Linked DNA regions of Homo sapiens: all the other regions are linked to region 3. Evidence: fine-mapped expression QTL. A gene starts in region 3. Each other region holds a variant in brackets. All regions are shown on one strand. Distances are from middle to middle. Region 1 overlaps LOC101929974 (a long non-coding RNA gene). Region 2 holds the start of LOC105370091 (a long non-coding RNA gene). Region 3 holds the start of NOC4L (nucleolar complex associated 4 homolog). Region 4 overlaps EP400 (E1A binding protein p400).

Evidence for each region. PIP is the estimated chance that this variant, and not a neighbour inherited with it, causes the effect.
Region 1: its variant is the best candidate, but not a certain one, in a credible set for the expression of NOC4L in subcutaneous fat (GTEx, PIP 0.76).
Region 2: its variant is the best candidate, but not a certain one, in a credible set for the expression of NOC4L in whole blood (Lepik 2017, PIP 0.66).
Region 4: its variant is the best candidate, but not a certain one, in a credible set for the expression of NOC4L in atrial appendage (GTEx, PIP 0.73).

Annotation. Positions count from the first base shown.
Region 1 is chr12:131,469,697-131,474,887 of GRCh38, reverse strand. It overlaps LOC101929974 (a long non-coding RNA gene), which reads left to right. Exons shown (of 4, transcript NR_187799.1): 2 at 430-581. Among named protein-coding and RNA genes, the nearest start is that of LINC02370, 120 kb to the right of the region's middle. The variant C/T (reference allele first, on the strand shown) is at 2,322.
Region 2 is chr12:132,196,325-132,201,515 of GRCh38, reverse strand. GALNT9 (polypeptide N-acetylgalactosaminyltransferase 9) reads left to right here. Exons shown (of 11, transcript NM_001122636.2): 8 at 255-392; 9 at 2,247-2,342; 10 at 3,557-3,724; 11 at 4,263-5,144. The coding sequence ends at 4,409. It overlaps LOC105370091 (a long non-coding RNA gene), which reads right to left and starts at 2,253. Exons shown (of 6, transcript XR_007063541.1): 1 at 2,151-2,253; 2 at 1,564-1,822; 3 at 229-335; 4 at 1-77. The variant C/T (reference allele first, on the strand shown) is at 2,519.
Region 3 is chr12:132,141,747-132,146,937 of GRCh38, reverse strand. It overlaps NOC4L (nucleolar complex associated 4 homolog), which reads right to left and starts at 2,481. Exons shown (of 15, transcript NM_024078.3): 1 at 2,333-2,481; 2 at 1,964-2,084; 3 at 1,273-1,379. The coding sequence starts at 2,449. DDX51 (DEAD-box helicase 51) reads left to right here and starts at 2,619. Exons shown (of 15, transcript NM_175066.4): 1 at 2,619-2,945; 2 at 3,029-3,243; 3 at 4,060-4,210; 4 at 4,516-4,661; 5 at 4,748-4,819; 6 at 4,982-5,088. The coding sequence starts at 2,642. RefSeq lists enhancers at 2,399-2,698, 3,628-4,533 and silencers at 2,709-2,758, 2,829-3,028.
Region 4 is chr12:132,025,209-132,030,208 of GRCh38, reverse strand. EP400 (E1A binding protein p400) reads right to left here. Exons shown (of 53, transcript NM_015409.5): 25 at 4,405-4,563; 26 at 2,678-2,772; 27 at 1,921-2,192; 28 at 306-508; 29 at 51-220. Among named protein-coding and RNA genes, the nearest start is that of SNORA49, 3.5 kb to the left of the region's middle. RefSeq lists a silencer at 1,911-2,205. The variant A/T (reference allele first, on the strand shown) is at 2,493.

The DNA.
Region 1 (5,191 bases), 670 kb after region 3:
ACTGTTCACGCTGCTCCTGCTCCCCCGGGCTCTGGGTGGCTCCTTCCCCCTCCAGAGCCTCCGGAGCCGCCCGTGCTCCTTGCTCCAGCCTGAAGCACCCAGGAGGACCCAGCAGCAGGTCAGGAGCAGTGACAAGCTCCTGAACCGTGGAAATGAGTCTGGTTTCGATCGATTTCCTCGGGGTCTCTGCGATATCCTCGGGGCCTCTGGGCTTGGGTGTGATCAGTTTCTGCCCTGGATCAAATAGCTGGAGGGGAGAGCTGGCCTCAGATGTGCACTGGCGGCCAGAATGTTCCCCAGAGTCACACAGGGCCAGGCCTGCAATGCAGCATTTGCTCAGCGGCTGACCCATTCTGTGCACTAGGAGGCTCCTCGCTCTCAGAAACAGTCACTCCTCCCTCCCACGTGACGCAGCCTGTGCATTTTCAGGTGAGGGACGGCCGGTGTCATCGTTGGAGCTTCCTAAGAGTCCCAGAGGCTGATGCACCTCCCAGACTCTCCTCGGCCCGGCTCCCTGGGCCCTGCTCCAGGGGCTTCATTGCTCCCTGCCCCGGGTCACCCCTCGGCTCACCGTCTCTCAGGTAGGCGTCTTCACATCAGATTTGTGGCTTTTCTGTTAAAATCCTTCACAAACTGGCTGTGCCCTGGTGGGCGGGGCCCAGGGCTGAGCAGGGGCGGCTCCAGGGTCAGATGGACTCGGGCTGACTCGGGCTCCACCAATTCTGAGTGTGGGAATCGGGGACCCTTCTACCCTCGCTGAGCCTCAGTCTCCTCATCTGTAAAATGGGGATAAGGGCGCCTGCCTCCTGGGACATGCTGGGGAGTCAGCTTAGCCCCGGGACCCATGGGCACTCACTCAGGTGTTGCTGTTACCTTGCTGCTGGTGAGATGGAAGGAGCAGCCGATTCGCGCAGAGAAGGAAGCAAAACGCTCTCTCGTGGTTATGGGCATCTTGCAGTTGATCTCACAGGGACAGGCATTTCCTGTTGGGAAGGATGTGGCTCTACTGGGCTCTGCTGTGAACCTGGGTGAACCTCGTGGCCTCTCAGCTTGGAATGTTGAGGATTTTAAACCCACTTGGATGTTTCACCCTTGGCTGTCCCAGGAAAATTCTTTTTTTCCTTTAATTTTGGCAAATAGCTACTGTAAAAAGCCAAGAGTTAAATGTATGTTCCCCTTATCTCTTATACCAGCTCGCTGCCCCTTGGGGTCTTCAGTGGGAAGCCCAGACCTGCTGTCCTGAGGCTATATCTGGGTGAGGAGCCCGGGAGCGGCCGTGCATGCCTGAGCTCCCATTGGCGTAAATGGGGACACAGACAGGCGCCCCGTCCACCTGTCCTGTCCCTGCTAAGTGTCGGCCTCCTCGCTGAGTGGGGCCCCATCAGTGGCTTTTCAGATGAGTCAGGGATGCTCCAGGCAGAGCTGCTGTCACTCCAGGTGGAGCCCTTGTCTGCGGGGAGCTGCCCCTCCTCGGGTGCCTGGAGAGGGCACGTATGTGCGGGGTGGTCAGTGTGGCTCAGGCCTCCACACTACCTGCCCCTGCTTCCCTCCTGCTGAGGCCGGGTGGACTCTGGGGGAAGGGACCCGTGCTCATGGGTTCACGGACACAGAGCAGGATGTGGGGCCAGAACATGAAATCCCTGCACAGACCCCTCGGTTCTTCCCACAGATCCTGTTTTTCATGCCCAAATCACCTGGACACACTTCTGTTGCCCCGGCTGGTTCCCAAAGTGGCCCTGATCCCCCCATCCAGGGCACTATCCTTACCACGTGCCTCTTCCCCCTGGCCAGCCCCCATCCCTGCCCCAGCCCACAGCTGCCCTGCCCAGGGGACTTCAGTCCCAGATCCACAGCGGCTCTTGGGAGTCTCGCTGGGAAGGCATGGGTGGGTCACTCCCATTTCCCACCATTCCACTGGAGCCTTCCTGGTTGATTCTGAGGTCCAGACCCCTGTCTCCTCATCTAGATGGGGACACCGAGGCTTCTGGGAGGTAGACAGTGCTGGGGGAACCATCAGGAGATCAGCAGCCAGGCCTGGACTCATGTGTTCTGGGACAGACTGGGGCCCTCCTGCCTGGCCTCTGGGGCCTCTCAGTCCAAGTCTGCAGCCACCTGTGGTCTGGAGGGCCACAAAGCTCATGGTTTGCAATCCCAGCCATTTCTTTTCTAAATCAGTAAATCCTGACCTCTGTGGACACCGCCATCACTGCCAAAATCAGGTCAAAGGCAGCTCCCTTGTGCACAGAGCAGGTCCACTTCTGCTGCTGACAGGTGGGAGTCCCGATGCCCTGGGGTCCTATCAGCCACACCCCTGTCTTCAC[C/T]GCAGGGCTGTGTGTGCACCCCTCACTTTGCTGATGACCAGAGGCTCCCCGGACACGGAAGCCAGATATCACCATGCTCATCCCTAGAGCAGCCGTGCGGGGCATGGAGCAGCAGAGCTCAGAGCTTATGCAGGGCTGATGCGGGGAAGCTGGTCTCCCCATGCTGCAGTCCCCATGGGGGAAGGAGCTCACCTGAAGGGGGTGCTCTCATTGGCTGGGAGCCTCCACTGACTCCACAGCACTCTCCTGACTTGTGCCAGATGCCTTTGAAACAGTCACTGGGCTGAAAAGTGACCAGAGCATGGGGTCGAGCTGTGAAGATGAGTTGGCCCTGGTTGTGGACGGTGAGGGAGGGAGCAGCGCTGGCCTGGGCTCTGGCAGCCCTGCTGAGTCCATCTCCCTGAGGATGAGCCGGGCTGGGCCGGGGCTGGCACTCCGTGATGTGGAACGGGGTGTGTTGGGGGAGCCTTTGCTGGGAAGGACTCCTGCTGAGAGGAGCCGTGTGTCGTGGAGGCTGTGGTTCCGAATCTCTCAGTGGGTGTGATTCTCTGCTTATTCGAATTAACTAAACTGTAAATCATGCCTGCCACATCCCATTCCCATTGGTTTCCGTGGATTCGCTGCTCATTTCTTGTTAGAAAGTGCTGTGGGCATCAGGAGTAGCTCAATAAGCAAAATGAAGCAGGTGCGGCAACTTCAGACAACCGAGTGTCCGCTGGGCTCTGCCTGCAGGTGTCTCCTTTTCATGAAACCAATTTGGCCCTGGTCAGCCCATTATGATAGGGAGGGTGGGGTTCGCTCCTGGGGATGGAGGGGCCGGCTCTGGGAGGATGAACCGAGGCACAAACAAGATGACATGGCTGTGCCAGGTGTTCCTGCCCAGGTGCCTCTGACATTGCAGGTGCCACGCTGCGTGGTCCTGCTCCATCCACGTCCTCCATCCCAGGACAGATGCTCTTCTCTGTTCAAGCCCAGAGGGGACAAAGTTCACCGTGACCTCATTTCCCTTTAATGCTTGGGCAGTTTCCTTCCTAAAGCACGTCTTGGCGTGGCTACACCACTCAGGGGCCTTCGCCTGTCTACAGCTCCAGGGAGGTATGGAAAAGTGTGACCACGGGCACAGCAGGAGCTCTGGGAGAGCAGGAGCAGGCCCTGGCAGCACCGCTGGCCCCGTCCTGCCTCCCCTGCACCACTGTCTCCTCTCCTGACTCCTCCTCCGCCTCTGTCGTGGCTGCGTCCCCTCCCCTCTAGATGTTCCCAGGAGCTCCCGGCTCAAGGGAACTCCTCCCTAAGCCCACATTCTCTCCTGGCATGTCCTTTAGTTCTCCTCCAGTTTACAGCCACACTTTTCCAATCTCTTAAATGATGGGTTTTAAAATTAATTTTCACCAGGAAGAATATGCTGGGATTTTAAATGAATGTCCTCTTTCTCTAACAACTACCACTTAGACAGGAATCTCCATGTTCCCTGTGGGCAACCCCGTCTTCTGTGAACCTTCCAGAGATATGTTAAACACATACAGAAACACGGAGATGTTTGTGTTTTCTAAGATAATATAGCACAGCATGGACTTGTCTTCTTCAGAATTTTTTTTCATTGTTTTCCTTCCCCTACTGGTTTTTAGGATGGACATTCTGCATCTCTTGTCGCTTACCTTTTGACAAGTGCGTTTAATTCATTACACTTTCATTAATAGCCATCTCTGCCTCCTTTCTGAATTATGATTATTAATTTCAACTATTGCCCTCTGGCTGACAGGCTGTTAACATACAGTCTTCTAGCTGGGTTTGGTTTTATTTCCTCTGTCGATATTATTATTTAATAATTATTTACTATTGTACCATATACATCATTTTCTTTTCTCACTGTAACTTACTGTATTTCAAACTGCTTCTCAGTAAATTGTCTTCTTTATGCATTTCCTTCAGGAATTCTAGTAGGGAGAGGGTCCCTGGAGTTAATCCCTCCTTTTTCTGTATCTTTGAAAACAGTTCTAGTCTCATCTACCCCTCATATTTCCTACTTTCCATCTGGCCCTGTTCAGAAACGTGTGGCTCCCTCCGGGATCCCGGGAGATGGTGTCCTCCTAAGAGGTTGACCTGGAGTCACCTTGTAGGGCCTGTTCCTCCCCAGGCGCCCCTCAGGGACATCTCAGCTCCTCTCTCACCACCACCTGTAAATAGCCCTCTGTGGGGGCTGTGATAGATCCAGCTCATGGCTACAGGGCTTCACCCCTCCCTGTGGAGCCCCCACCCTCTGCCCTTGGCTTTGGGCTTGAGCCTGGGAGTGGCTCTGGCCAGCAGAAAGGGATGGAGACGGTGCAGAATCCCTCAGGCTTCCCGTGTCCACGTCCCTGGCTCCTCACCACACCGGAACAGGACTCCCGCCAGCAGCTGGGGAGACCGTTATCTAGTGCATCCTCTGAAGGCAGCAGGCTGCTGTGGGCTGAGGCGCTTTTTAGACACTTAGGAGATAATTCACAACTCATCAGGAACACCGCATCACTGCTTATGGGTGTCTCACGACTGCAGTAGGGAAAATAGGTCTCTTATCAGAAGATTAAGGAAGAAAGATTTTCTCCCTACAGACTCCTCCTGAGGAGCCATGCACATGGCGTTTACTCCCAATGGGCGATGGGATTTTCATCAGCTTTTATGTTCAGAAGGCAGGGCACACCTGGAAGCTGTTGTCGAGGGATGGCCTGATTGAGCTCGTGAGGCCCTGGGCGTGCGGGTAGGGTCCGTTCCTGATCAGGAGCGTTCTCAGCGTCGTGAGCAGCACAGGGCTCAGAGGCTCAGAGGTCCCCAGGAGGCAGGCCCTGCAGCGTGGGGCAAGGGATGGGCACAAATGCTGGGTGCGTGCTGTTGTT
Region 2 (5,191 bases), 55 kb before region 3:
CAGCAGGGGCCGTCTGTCCAGGCCGGGGCTGGCCTCTGGCAGGGTCCTTCCCATCAGGAGCAGCTGCCTCAGACCCTCTGTGGATATTAGGAGGCTGGGGGGTCCCAACTGGATGGGGCCTCAGCATCTGAATACTGGGGGGGAGGCTGCTCCTGTGAGGGCACTTGGTCCCTGGAGACCCCCAACCTCATTATGGGGAAGACCCAGGTCATGGTGACACCCATGTACCCTCTCACCTACTTCTGGCCTTGCAGAACCCAGGGGTGGACTTCGGGGACGTGTCTGAGAGGCTGGCCCTGCGTCAGAGGCTGAAGTGTCGCAGCTTCAAGTGGTACCTGGAGAACGTGTACCCGGAGATGAGGGTCTACAACAACACCCTCACGTACGGAGAGGTAGCACCTCCCCCGAGGGCCCCGTTCGGCCCGACAGGCTTTCTGCCCTGACTCCTGCACACGTATGCATTCAGGGTGATGCAGGCACATCCACATGCACACGGAGAGGTAGCGCCTCCCCCAGAGGGTCCCACTCGGCCCGACAGGCCTTCCGCCCTGACTCCTGCACACACGTGTGCATTCACGGTGATGCAGGCACATCCACGTGCACACACAAGGTGCAGGTTCACATAAACACACGCACCTGCAGACCCACATGTCCATACACACCCATTCCTTCACATGGACCTCCCTAGAGGCAGGCAGGTGTGTAGTCACATCCATGCGTGTTCACATGCCTGATTCAATGTACCTACGCTCTCACGTATGTGTACATAGGGATACATGCACTCACCTAGATGTGTGTACAGAGACATTCACAGGCAGGTACGTAAATCCATGCAAACACTCATATGTACAAGAGCACGCGGACACGAGTATACATTTGCACCCAGTTTTGCTAATGTACACAGCTCTTCCTACACAGATGTATGTTTCACTAAGTGCATGAACCCCAAAGGCGCCTGCCTGTGCACAGATAAACACACAGGCCCTTGTTATCAAGCAAAATAATGTGTGTGTGTACACGTCTGTGCATCCACATATGCGGAGCCACGTTCATACACCAGCGTGCATGCATGAAGGTGCCCCCACAGATGCACACAATGGGTGATATGCACACTCACACAGGCCCATCAGCTACACAGAGACCCCCGTCTCCACTGGCCCCCACATGCACAGCACTCCGTAAAGCCAGCGAGAAGGTGCTGCTCTTCTGCCCTCTCCCCAGTCTGTGCAGGGGATGGGGTGCCTCCCACCATGAGACTCGAGCGTCCCAGCCCTGAGCTGGCACTCGGATGGGGCAAGGAAAAGGGTCCCTGGGGTGGATGGTCCTCGCTGAGCCTCCCCTCCTGCAGCTCCTGGTCCACCCTGCGCTGACTCCAGTCCCTTGGGCACAGAGGTTTCCCAGGCAGTGCTGAGTGTGCATCGGGGCACCGCCCCTCTCCCCCAGCCTCCCTGTGCTTCTACTCTGCCCACTCCATCCTCAATTAGCCAAGTGCAGGCACCCCCAACCCAGAGCAGCCGTAACATCCAGACTCTGCTGGGCTTCCTCAACGGTCCCAATTCAAACCTGTGTGACCTCTCGTGGTGGCCGTGGTGGATGGGTCAGCTGCTGCTGCAAACCCAGCAGCCTGGAGACGCGGTGGACAAAAGCAATAAGCATCTACACTTGCTCACGAGCCGGGGCCACCCAGGCAGTGCTGCTGGCCTGATCCAGGCTGTGCTGATCTCCGATGGGCCTGTTCTGGAGGCTGGAGGTTGGCTGCCCGATGACAACACATCCCCCAGCAGTCTGGCCCGGGCTTGTTCTCAGAGGGCTGTCAGGGTTCCTTCCAAGACAGAGTGGAAGCTGGAAGGTCTCCCAAGGGTCCAAGCCAAGGCCAGCCTAGACTGCAAGGCTGGCGAGCGGTCTCTACCCACTCAGTGGGAGCCGCAAGGGCACAGGGAGCAGGCGGCAAGGCAGGGAAGCCACTCCACAGCCTGGGGCCGTCGTCCCTGCTGCTCAAGTGTTCCCCTATGGAGTGATGGCCAAGTCTCCATCTGTGCATGGCGGACACTTCCATGTCTCCATCAGTGACAAACTCGGTCAGCCACCCCTTCCCAGGCAGCCCACCCGGCCAGAGCATCCCACACGCCCCCTCCTCCTCCCGCGGGCACCTCCTTAGGTGCTGGCTGCAGAGCTGGCTGCGTGAAGCTCCCTGGGGCCGCACCCTCGGGTGACTCTGGACTTTCTCCTGGGGCTTCTGCTTGCAGGTGAGAAACAGCAAAGCCAGTGCCTACTGTCTGGACCAGGGAGCGGAGGACGGCGACCGGGCGATCCTCTACCCCTGCCACGGGATGTCCTCCCAGGTAGGAGTAGCAGCGGCCACCCATGCAGCTCCCAAGGGGACGACCCCAGGCCACCCGGACCCTACACCCTGGGGCAGAGGCACGGGTCCAGCCTGCTGGGGTGTTCTGAGGCCACCAGGGCTGCATTCCAGGGCTTGGAGCAGCCTGAGGGCCCCTCTAGAAGAGGCCTCCCAGCC[C/T]GCCCCACCTGGAAGGTAGCAGAACACGGGGAATTGAAAACAGCCTGGGCCGGGTGCAGTGGCTCACGCCTGTCATCTCAGCACGATGGGAGGCCAAGGCAGACAGATCACTTAAGCCCAGGAATTGAGACCAGTCTGGGCAGCGTGGCGAAACCCTGTCGCTACAAAAAATACAAAAATTAGCCGGGCATGGTGGGGCATGCCCGTATTCCCAGCTGCTCGGGAGGCTGAGGCAGGAGGATCACCTGAGCCTGGGATGCGGAGGTTGAGCTGAGATCACACCAGTGCACTCCATCCTGGGCAACAGAGCGAGACCGTATCTCAAAAAATTAAAAAGGAACCAGGCCTTTGGGGTCAGATGGGCTGGGGGTGCATCACTCCCCCCTCAGTCAAGAGAGACGGCAACAGCACTTACCGCTCAGGACTGTCGCGTGATTGAAGCGAAGTGTGGGAAGCATTGGCTCGGGGGGTGGATTAACACGGCAATAGTGCTGTTGACCTCCGAGCACTCCCCACCTGGGCAGGACTCACCTGCAGCACAGGCCCAGGCCCAGCCCCAGCCCCAGCCCCGCAGAATCACAGTGGTCAGGGGCTGGCCGTAGTGAAGGTCCAGGCCATTCTGACCATGACCCCCATAAGGAGCTGGACGTTTCTAACCCCACGGGAATGCGTGTTCCGCTCACACACGGCACTGCATGTTGCCCAAATTAAACCCAACTCCTGTCCTCCCCGAAACGAGTGGGGCCGCGCTCTGGGTCTGAGCCACATTCATGACGTCTGTCCAGGCGGAAGACCAGCCAGCTGTGCAAGCCGGGAGCCTGGCCCTGCGGAGCATTTGGGCGCCGTCCAGCCCGCATCCCCACGTGGGCCCTGCCCGGCGGTCCTCTCCCGCCCGCAACAGCGTCCCCGGGGTGGGAGGCTCCAAGGCAGCCGCGCAGGGCCCCGTTTGCAGCTCAAGGCAGCTCGCACGGCCTGTCAGTGCTCACTGGGGAGAGCCTGGGCGCTGCTCACACACAGTCCCGGTGGTCCTGTCCCCAGCTGGTGCGGTACAGCGCTGATGGACTGCTGCAGCTGGGGCCTCTGGGCTCCACAGCCTTCTTGCCTGACTCCAAGTGTCTGGTGGATGACGGCACGGGCCGCATGCCCACCCTGAAGAAGTGTGAGGATGTGGCGCGGCCAACACAGCGGCTGTGGGACTTCACCCAGGTCAGCCTCTGGGGAAGGGGGGCCGTGGGGTTGGGGCGGGGCAGGGCTGCTGGGACCCCTGGGTGCCTCTGCCACTAGAGCCAGCCCATTGGGTGGGAGCTGGAGTGCGGCAGGGGGTGGTCAGGGGACCGGGCCTTGGATCAGCTGTTCCCTTATGGGCCCCGACGCTCACAGAGAGGGCAGGTGACTGGTCAGGGTCACACAGCCAGAGAGGGGTCGGGCTGGACAGTCTGATCATAGCCCTGCATCTGCCTCTTCCAGCCTCAGGTGCCCAGGGTAGAGGGAGGATTTAGGAAGGGGATGAGGTATGATTCCAACCTGGGCCGCTAGCCCTGCAGGAAAGATGGGAAATCCTCGAAGCTCCACTGAAGTCAGCCCCTTCCCGGCCCCCCTGGGTGCTGCTGTGATGCTGGCTTTCCATTCAAGCTGCCCCAAGAATGAGCACGAGGGCTGAGAGCACGAAGCAGCCTCCCTGAGGTGGGGGGAGGGGGAACAAGGACGCCTGCACCTGGCTGACTTGATGTGCCTGTCCCCACAGAGTGGCCCCATTGTGAGCCGGGCCACGGGCCGCTGCCTGGAGGTGGAGATGTCCAAAGATGCCAACTTTGGGCTCCGGCTGGTGGTACAGAGGTGCTCGGGGCAGAAGTGGATGATCAGAAACTGGATCAAACACGCACGGCACTGACCCCACCTCCGCCCGGACCCCCACAGACCTCGGGAAGGCGCTGGGCCGAGCCAGTGTGGCTGAGTGACCGGGGTGTGCCCGGCAGACACAGCAGGACAGGGCTCTATGTGCGGCCAGGACAGCAGAGGCTGAGGGGCCGGGGTGTGGCTGAGTGACCAGGGTGTCACCCACTGCATCTGGAGTACAGCTTCTCCTAGGACAGGCGGCTCTACCCGAGGGAGGGCGTCTGGGGACAGTGATGCCAACTCAAACACGTGCCTTCTCCACGGTATCTCCTGGCCAGGCTGCTGGGACAGCCGCCGCCTCTGCATGTACCACAGCCCCCCACGCCCCATAGGGAGGCCAAGCCCCGGACCATGCACCAGGCTGCACCCTGGTGTCTTCCACCCGCAGGCCTCCCATGCTCCAAGCAGCCTCCCCCAGCACTTGCGGCCGCTCAGCCCTCCAACCAAGACCTAAGTCACACATCATAATGCAGCTCCTTGTGGTCTGGTAAGAGGGGTGCTGGAGGACATGGACAGCGACAAACCTGAGGCCGTGTCTAGGAGGCTGGCACGACTGCTTCAGCAGAGACCAAATAAAGAGAGGATTAGGCAGCAGCACTGTGTGTGTCTTCCTGGGAGCCGAGCTGGGGGTTGGGGCCCGGTCCCACCTCTTTCCCAGGCACCTGGGCCCTGCCGCAGCCCAGCCCCTTGCCTGTTTTAATAAATACAGTTTTATTGGCGCCCAGCCACACCCAGTTGCTTACTATTGTCTGTGGCCACCGCTGCGGGGCTCTCGGC
Region 3 (5,191 bases):
CAGGCGTGTGATGCCAGCATGGTGCCCAACTCAGACCCAGGCTTGGAAGCTCTCATCTCGGGGTGGCAAACTCAGTGCTTTCAGGGCCCAGGCAAATGACACCACAAAGCAAAAGAGCCTCGTGCGGGATGACAGGAGCACACGGCTGTCTCAGAGCTGTCTCTGACTCTCCCTCCAGCCAATCGCAGCCATGAACAAACTTAGACCCCGTGTTGACAGAACTGATTATTTCTTTCTGAGAAGGTGGAAACTGGTTATTTTCACGTGGTATCTCCCCAACATTTAAAAGTCTGCAGCTCGGCTATAATTATAGACAGACGTGTTGGCGAGGATGTGGAGTATGGAACTCTCAAATGCTGCCAGGGGGAGGGTAAGATAGCGCAGCTACTATGGAAAACAGTCTTGTAGTTCCTCAGAACATTAAAAACACAGCTGCTGTGTGGCCTTGTAATTCCACTGATAAGGCATATTCAAGCAAAAGAAACATCACACAAGAGTTTGTACGCGAACGTTCACAGTCCGCTGTTCGTAACAGCCAAAGGTGGAAACGACGCAAATGCCCAGCAACCTACGAGCGGCTGAACGATACGTGCTGTGCTATACGACGCGCTGCTACTCAGCCACAAAGAGAACGAACTTCGAACACGCCGATGAGTGGAAGAAGCCACATACCGTATGATCCCCCTTATGAGGAGCGTCTAAAAAAAGCAAACCCATTGATCCAGGAAGTAACCACTGATCCAGGAGTGGCTGCCTGGGGCTGGGGGTGGAAAGGGGCGGGATATGGAAGCGATGGTAACTGGTACAGGATTTCTTTTCGGGGCGATAAAGATGTTCTGGGATAGCGGCAACCACTGCACAACACAGTAACAGATGCTAACTTCTCAGCTTTAAACGGTAAACTGTGCCTCAGTTATTCCTCACTACAGATTTTAAGAAAGCTCATAATGCATTCCCATGGCTGCAGACCACAGTGTGATCTGAGCAAACACATCTGTGGACTGGCACGAGGCTTGGTGTGCGTGCTCTATGCAAACACAGAGATCCCCGTGGATGCCACTGGAAATGAACACGGATTCTGCGTCTTCAATATTCACTACAGGACTCGATAGCCATGTTTCTGAATGGGACTGAACACCCACAGGGTGATGCTCCCATGAAGGAAGCAGCTTTGCCTGGACAATTGTGGGAGCCCCAGACCTCTGCTTTGTGGATAACCTGGGAGTTGGGGTGCAGGGGATGGACAAGGATGAGGCCAGCCCAATGACCCACCTTGACCTGAAAGGAGGGGTGGCCCAGGAGCTCTCCCAAGCGATTGCAGCAGCTGTGATAGCGGTGTCTCATCCACACCTTGTACTTCCGTGTGGCTCCCTGGGACCCTGCAGACAGGTTAGGGTGGTCAGCCCACGTGAGGCCCACATACGCCACCCTGGGCCCAGCCCAAAATCTCAGGCCTGGCTCCACCCTCCCATTGTCTTCTACTCAGCCTCCGCAGGTGGAAACAGGTCGCTAAGGCCCCCAGACCTGTGCTGAGACCAGCACATTCCCTGAGCCCTGCAAACAGGAAGAGCACCTCCTACCCCAGGACTGCCCCAGCCAAGCTGCCAGGAGCAGGATCCACATCCCCTCTCTTTACTCCAAGACCTGACGTCCCCAGGATGGGGACATAAAGGAAGCTCCGAGTTTAAGCGACCGTGTCAGGATCAGTCAACATCAAATTACAAAAGGGGTGCAAAGCACACAAAAAGTCGTACCTTGTCCAGTGTTCATCTACACTCAGCTGCAGGGCACCCATGTCACCCCTGCCCCAACGCCACCATCCATCTTCCACGGTGGGCTTGGTGCGTCCTCCCACCAGCCTGCACGGCCTGTGCCAGGGTTGGGGGCGCTCATCCCATGGTGACAAAGCCTCCCTCCGACCCACGGAAAGAGAAGAGCAGCCCCGGGGCCCTCCAGGGCTCACCTGTCATGACCATCTCCTCAGAGGGCAGCTGGCCCACAAACAGCTCTCCCCGCTCCAGCAAGGCCCCGAAAAGACGGCTGCACGTGCGGACTGCTTCCTGGATCTCCTCCTGGTCCTCAGACTGCAGGAGAGGCGGCGGCAGGGTGCCCGGCCGCCAACTGTCACCTTCGCCCCTGCCTAGGCTGCCCCCAACCCGTTCCCTTCCCCCTCGGGACGCCAGCCCCGTCACCCCCGACCCGTGACCCACACGCCTCCCACCCTGACCCCCCAACGCCGTCTCGGAACCTCCTGGGGACCTGCCGCCGCAGCCCCCCATTCAAGTCCCGCTCCCGTGCCGCGACTCCGGCCCTGCGACGCCGCCAGGCCCACCTGCAGCACGGCCAGGATGTCGAACACGGCGTTGGCCTCACTGCGGCTCGCCAGCACCGCCTCCAGCCGGCGGCCCAGAGCCCGGCGAACTCCCGCGGCGCCCGGCTCCCGCTCCATGCCGCCCCCAACACGGAACAACGCGGATTCTCAGCCGCCGGCGCTCCCGTGACGTCACCACTGCGCGTAGAACCCGACGTCATCTCTACGCGCCGTACCCCAACCCCATCTTTTGCGCGGAGCCCGAGTCGCAGGCGTGCCGCCGACGTCATCGCAGCGCGCCACGCCCGAGTCCCAGGCGTGCGGCTGGCCATGGCGCTGTTCTACGTCGCGCGGTACCCGGGCCCCGATGCGGCAGCTGCGGCGGGGCCGGAGGGCGCGGAGGCCGGGGCGCACGGCAGGGCCCGCGCGCTGCTCGAGCGGCTGCAGAGCCGGGCCCGCGAACGGCAGCAGCAGCGGGAGCCCGCGCAGACCGAGGCGGCTGCATCGACCGAGCCGGCGACCAGGAGGCGACGGCGGCCCCGGCGGCGGCGGCGGGTGAACGACGCGGAGCCGGGGAGCCCGGAGGCGCCGCAGGGAAAGCGACGGAAGGCGGACGGCGAGGACGCGGGCGCAGGTGGGCCGCGGGGCGAGCGGGCTCCCTCTGGGGCGCCGGCGACTCGGTGCTGACGCGCTGCCGGGTGGGTGTCTGCCTCGCAGAAAGCAACGAGGAGGCGCCAGGGGAGCCCAGCGCAGGGAGCAGCGAGGAGGCGCCAGGGGAGCCCAGCGCAGGGAGCAGCGAGGAGGCGCCGGGGGAGCGCAGCACCAGCGCCAGCGCCGAGGCGGCCCCAGATGGACCGGCCCTGGAGGAGGCGGCCGGACCCCTGGTCCCCGGCCTGGTGCTGGGGGGGTTCGGGAAGAGGAAGGCGCCGAAGGTGAGCCTCGGCGGGCGGGAGGGTGGTCGGCGTGAGAGGGTAGGCTGCGCGGATTCTTAAGTGCGGCGGTCGCCCCGGAAGATTTCGTTCAGCGAATGTTCCCGGGTCACAGCCGCGCCTCGCTGCCAGGTCTGCAGTTTCATCGCCTAGGGGTCTGGATCCTGCACGTGCAGAGCTCCCGTTTCCTCTGCTAGGCTTGCCCCTGTCCTCCCGCCGCGCCGCGCCAGTTCTGCAAGATGTGTTTGCGTGAACGTGCGGGGTTTCCTGCTGTGCGCTCACCGCCTCAGGAGTAAGTCAGAGGCCGTTCTGCAAGCTCCTGACCGTTGGTGTTTTTGCTTAGCACGTGTGGTTTTCGGTAAAGAGATTTCCGGCGAGACAGGTGAAGAAAGCGAGAAGTTTGACAGAGTGCTCGGGCACCTTAGGTAGGGCAGGTGGAGGAGGTTCTCTTTGAGTTGGGATGCAAAGACTTGAAGCCAGGTCAAGGTTGGGGGTTGGGGGTGCCAGGCAGAGGCCTCGAGGCAGGGACGCCGGCGTGGCTGGGGCAGGCGAGCGCCAGGTCACAGGACCTCCTGGCTGCGGGAGGGTGGGTGCCACTGTGGGTTGATGGGAGGCTACAGAGTGAGTTTGCTCAGGGAGTGGCATCTGCTTTTACTGTTTAACTTCTGAAGGCTGTATGGAAAGCGCATCCTGGGGCTGAGAAGGAGCTGAAGACGACAGAGGTTTCCCCAGCCTCCCTCCCCTAGCTTTTTCCACCGTGGGCTTCTGCGCGAGAGCCTGGAAAGCGCTCACCTGGCCTCTCTTTCTTTTTGATGGCAGGTCCAGCCTTTCCTGCCAAGGTGGCTGGCTGAGCCTAACTGTGTCAGAAGGAATGTCACCGAAGACCTGGTTCCTATCGAGGACATCCCTGACGTCCATCCTGACCTGCAGAAGCAGCTGCGGGCACACGGCATCTCGTCCTACTTTCCAGGTGCCCCAGCCCCGGGCAGGCAGCTGAGGGAACACCTCCCTGGGCACCCACACACAAGGCTGTGAGTGGCCGTGGGTCAGGCGTCCCTGCCACATCGGTGCCAAGTGTGGTCTCAGCACTCTCAAGCTCATGGTTCCCACTTGGGTCTCCTGAGGCTGGCGTTCCTCTGGGCCTTGGTGCCATCCCTCTGGGGAGCGGTTCCCAGGCCTCCAGCAGAGCAGCCCAGCCCAGAGGTCACAGGCAGGGAAGCGGCAGGCCTAGGCCTAGGCGTAAACACGACTTCTCTCTCGCCTTTCCTCATCCAGTCCAGGCAGCTGTGATTCCTGCCCTCCTGGAGAGCGCAGCCTGTGGGTTTCTGGTGGGCAGAGGTGGCTACCGGCCTAGCGACCTCTGTGTTTCTGCCCCAACAGGCAGTGGGAAGACACTGGCCTTCGTCATCCCTGTGGTGCAGGTCTGTGTGAGGGTCCCCTTTCTCTACAGCGGGTGTGCAGAGGACAGGTAACAGCCTTGCTGACGCAGGCGCTCCTTCCCCCTCAGGCCCTGCTTTCGAGAGTGGTCTGCCACATCCGTGCCCTGGTTGTGCTGCCCACCAAGGAGCTGGCCCAGCAGGTATGTGGACCCTAGACCTGGAGCGTGGCACCGCCCGCCTCAGCTTCCCTGCTGAGTGCACAGCGATCAGCCCCTGGGGGACCCAGATTAGATCTGGGGTCCTTTTTGCTGCAGTAGGTGGACACCAGCTACCTCCAGGCCAGTGACAGACTTCTCCTGCAGGTGAGCAAAGTTTTCAACATCTACACAGATGCCACACCTCTGAGAGTCTCCCTGGTTACGGGACAGAAGTCTCTGGCCAAGGAGCAGGAGAGCCTCGTCCAGAAAACGTAGGTTGTGTCAGGGTGCGGGTTTTTCAGGGGGTCCCTGCTCAGCCCTGCAGGTGGCCTGAGGCACCGTGGGAGCAGAGGAGGGGCCACCATCTTTAACCAC
Region 4 (5,000 bases), 120 kb after region 3:
AACACCAGTGACTGACCCATCAGAGACAATGTAAACAATGTGCTTCTCACCTGCCGTTGCTCACTGCTGGCATTTTCATCGATTCTTACATAGGTGAGGTAATGGAAGTTCAAGAACATCTCTAAAATGTCCAACATAAGAATCATCTGTGATAAAATCAGCACCCGACGTCCTTCAGATTTCAATTTCTGAAGCAAGATAGCTAAAGCTTCCAACTTCCCTGGGAAACGAATCACATCAAGAGCGCCTCATCATCCAGGGCCGGTGCAGCTCCCGCACGGGCCACGCCCCCAACTGCCGCATACCTGAGTCGAACTGCACCAGCCTCAGCTCAGGGAACTGCAGCAGGCGTGGAGCCGTGGTCTGCCGCAGCTGCTGGAAGTACGGCGCAGCGTGCTCTCTCAGGCCCTGCCTCAAGATCCTCATTCTGTGGCTGTACAGGGGTGGCGGCCGCGGCACCCGTAGGGACGGGGGTGCTGCCACCACCGGAGGAATCACAAAGGCCACCCTGAGGAGCAGAAAGCATGTTTTGTCACCACCAGGAGCCACACACCTTCACCCAGCATGGGGGCTCCTGAAAGATGGGGCAGACTTCTGACAGTCCAAGTCCCAGGAAACAGCAGGGCTCAACCCAGTCACATGGGGATGTGGGTGTTGGCACACGGGCAGGGGCCCAACGAGGCAGATCCTAACCAGTCCTGGCCAATAACCACCACCTCGGGGACTAATTCAGACAGTCCAGGGCTGATGGATCAATGGGGGTGGATTCCCTAGGCCGCAGGCACCAGGTCAGAGATAAGCCATTCTCTTTCTAGTGTGTCTTCAGCTGGAAACTTTGGGACAAAGGTGCACTGTCTCGTGGACCCTAGAACTGCTATAGCCACTGTGCCACCAGGACGGGGGCCAGACTCAGGGTGAAGGAGCCTTCAGGACAATGACAATAGAGCGAAGATCGCACAGCCAACCTAAGGCCCACCTTGCAACCTGTGGAGGTCACCTGCACCAGAAGGCCCTTGCTATGGACATCAACTATGACTCACTCCCAGCTGTATTCAAACTGAACGAATGGTCACCCATGATGTTCAATGAGGGAGGAGTACACAAAGACAAATCAGTACTCGAAAGAAAAACTCCAGGAGCACAAGGTCACTGACATAGTCACTCCCAGACCAGGAGAAGCCAGAAGTGGCTTGTTCGGCCTTGGAGAAGCACTCCCAGTTTTCTTTTTTTCCATTAATTCTGCTTCCTGATCTGAAAGAACTGAAATAGGTAGATCCTGAAAGCTGAGCTGAGCCAAGGCACAGGAAGAAGCCAGGTTGCCCTCTGCAGACAGGAGACAACTGAGAACTACAACAGCTGCAAAGAAGGGAAGAAAACATGTCTGAAGTGGAGCCTGGAGATGGGGTCCAAGCAGGGAGTGGAAATGCAAACAGGGTAACGCACTCTACTGAAAGCAAGCTCAGTTGAGAGCGGCCGGGTGCCCACCGTGCCCACCGGTGCTCAGATTTGCTCTCCATTAAAGCACGTTCTGAGATCAACTCCTGCCCACATTTGTCATCATGTAATGTTCACTCACTCATGGGGCTCTTTTAATGCAATCATTTTTTGAAAGAGTCAAATGGAGAAAGTCCTTAGCAACACAGTGATCTGTCCCCAAGCACAGTGTGAGCTCAGTGCTGCGGCTCTGCCCCCAGGGCTGCCAACTTCCTTCAGAAGCCGCACCTGGCACTGAGACCCAGATAACAAAACCATCTGATCCCAAAGCTGAAGACCTCAAAGACTAACTTCAAAACAGACCGCTAAGGGACAGCGTGGGGAGAAGCCGATGGGAGTAAGATGTACATCCACGAGACAAGAAGGGGTCTTGCCGGGGTGCAATGCAGCCAGAGAGCACCGAAAAGGTCACGAGGTCTGCAGTACCTGTCAATAACATCCTGCAGAGACTCTCCACACCGACAAAGCGTCAACATCAGCTCACTTGGACTTTCTGAGGATGAAGTGTAACTGTGCGCTGGCCCGGCCTCCTTCCCACGACGGCCATCCAGGGACCCACGCCACTGTACCCTTCCATGGCTAGGCAGGGCACAAATCCTTAGCAAGTCTCTGCCATAGACTGGAGCTTGAGAACAGCGCCGCTCGTTGACTAAATAAATCTGATCCAGGCGCTCTTTCAAGAGTCTGGTCTTTTCCTCCTTTATCAAAAAGTGATGAAAAACAGTTACTTGAGAAACAGAATGACAAGTTCCTGTCTTCACCAACCCCCCACCCAGCCCGTGATTTCCCACATATGAGATCCACTTCAATATCCCCGGTCTTGTGTTACAGGAAATAGAGATAGAAATGAAGCCGAGAGCTACAGGAAATAGAGATGGAAATGAAGCCGAGAGCACAAGCGTTCTCTTCTTTGCCAAGATGGGAAGTATTTCTCAAGACACAAGTGAGCAATTCTAATGCCCAGGAAGACTTGCAGAAGGACATAAAAAATACAAAAA[A/T]AGATTGTGGCAGTCGTAAGTCCAGTTTCATTTATTTTATTAGAAAATGTGTGTTTTAAAATAAGAATTCAGTAACATCACTTGAGAATTCACAGGAGCCTTTAAATATCACAACCAAACACAACGAGCAGCTCTTGGAAAGCTACCTGTCCACGTGCACCGGGGTCTCAAGCTCAGGTGCTTACCTGGGTCGGCCCTCCAATGGGAGAAGCTGGTTTGGAGGCCGTTCCGGGTTCTCCTACAGCCAAGGCATTCACCGCCACGCGGCCCGGAACGCCAACTACAAATGCATAAAGGAAGAGGTGAAAAGGAACGCCAAGTTCACAGGATTTCATCTGACACCAGCATGCTCCATGGAACCTCACCCTCCACCAGCACACTCCACAGAAAGTCATTCTGCAACGGCATGTCCCCAAGTCCTCATCCTCCACCAGCACATGCCTGGAATGTGCATGGGCTCAAACTTAAATGCTTTAGACCTGCCACGGAAGCATGCTGGCTCGCAGGCCATGACTGGAGCTGAATGGAGCCAGCAGCTTATCCCTTTCTTTTGGGAGGCACTCCAGAGCCACCCAGAAGCATCCCAGCACACCTCCGAGGCCCTGGGTACCCCATCGCCATCAGCACATGGCCACCTCCTAGCCCAGGTGACCGCCTGATGACTGTGAGGCCCTTGCCTGCCATGAGCAGCCCAGCCCCGGCAGGAAGTCCACCCAGTCCTCACAACTGCAACAGAGCAAGCCAGTGCCCGTTTCATATCCGTTCCCTGGAGCTGCTCCTGACATGACACCTGCTACCAGCCAGGGCCAATCAGGAAGGCAGAAGCCATGCCACTTAGTGCGGCAGACTTTCCTACAAAGATGTGGTCAAAGAGGTGTCTGAGTGCTGAAAAGGGGCCCAGGGGTAAGAGTCACCTTAGGGAAAAACAAGAGGAGAGGCTGAGGTTGTCAGAACTCAGCACTTGGGGGTGGGGGTGTCTGAGCTCAGACCCTCAGGGTCCAGGACTCCAGTTGGTACTGGGGCCTCTGAAGCTGAGGAGGGCTTCCACGGGACAGTGACTCATCAGCCCGCAAAGAAGGGTGCAGCAGCTGGTTCTGGAATCCCCAAGATGCCTGGTTCTGGGGGTAGCGGCAAAACCTGGTGAGTGGAACTGCTGACCATGCTGGCATGCAGGACTGCTGCTAGGTGATGCTAACAGGACTGGAGAACAAGCCATGGCCCCTCCCCACTCCAGCCTTGCAGCCTCCTCTGATAACTAACAGAGCCTAACAGGTTGGCAGTGACCCACCCAACATCACTGCCCACTATGCAAAGGTGGGGCTGGAACTGAATGGACACCACTCGGCCACCAGGACAAGGGCTCCATCCCAAGGAGAGAGCCTCACCCCTCTAGGCTCCCACCTGCCTCCACGGGTCTCTGGGTTCCAGAGGACACACCACATCATGACAGAGCATGTCCAGAGAGACCTGGGGCCAAGGCAGGCACAGAGCGGGGACTCAGAGGTGAAGCAGGTGGCGAGACAGGATGAGGAGTGGCAGCTCGGGCCGGACAAAGAACCAGACCCTGCGTGGGCGGCCACACACTCCCACTCCCAGGGGAAACGGAGCACACTGGCGATATACAAACAAGCAAGATTTCTCATGATTCCAAATTTCTTGTGAGAACACAAACAAAACAAAAACCTAAGGACAGTGGAGGCTGGTTATATCCAACCAATACCTTTGAAAGCACAAGAAAAAGAAAATAAATCAGGCTGACACTAGGACACATCTATAGAAATCAGAGATGGCCACACACTAGACTGTGCTGTTCTGAGATACAGTCAAAGACACATGAATGCTTTCCACTCGCCTTAGATGGAAGAGAAAGAAGCATCCAAGCCAAGTCTCCCTCCTGCTCAGAGCACCCTACCTTGTGGGGTCAAGGGTGCAGGGCTGGGACCGCCGGCCGGGGGCTTGCTTCCCAGGGCGCCGTGCACAGCGCCCGCCTGAGACACGGTCTGCATCACCACAGGGCCAGGGGCTCGAAGGTAGGGCTGCCCGGGGGCGGACACGATCTGGAGGACGCTGCCTGCAATCATAGGTCCACTAGGTGTCAATGACAGGCATGTGTACATCACAGCCACACACTCCAGGCACTTCCAAACAGTACAAAAATAAGTTGACAAACTGAAAATCAAATCTACACAAAAAAATCAATGCAAAGTTCAGTTACTGTGAGGAAAGTGGCAACCCATCACCGACAGTGGATGACGACACACTAAGAGACAAGGTATCTTGCTCCATGTCAAGAAAAGGCCATCTACCCTCTGTCCCTCATGGAAGGTGGGTGACACACAGCTGCTGAGGACCTGCCATGCTGTTCGAGGTACTGAGGCGGACATCCCCACTCCCAGATCACAGCAGTCAAGGAGAATGAAGAAATAGAACAAAACCCTGTTTTTAGCCCAGATGCCTGTGGCTTTTCTGCTGCTGTTTAACGAGGCTGCCACTTTGGATCTTGTGTGA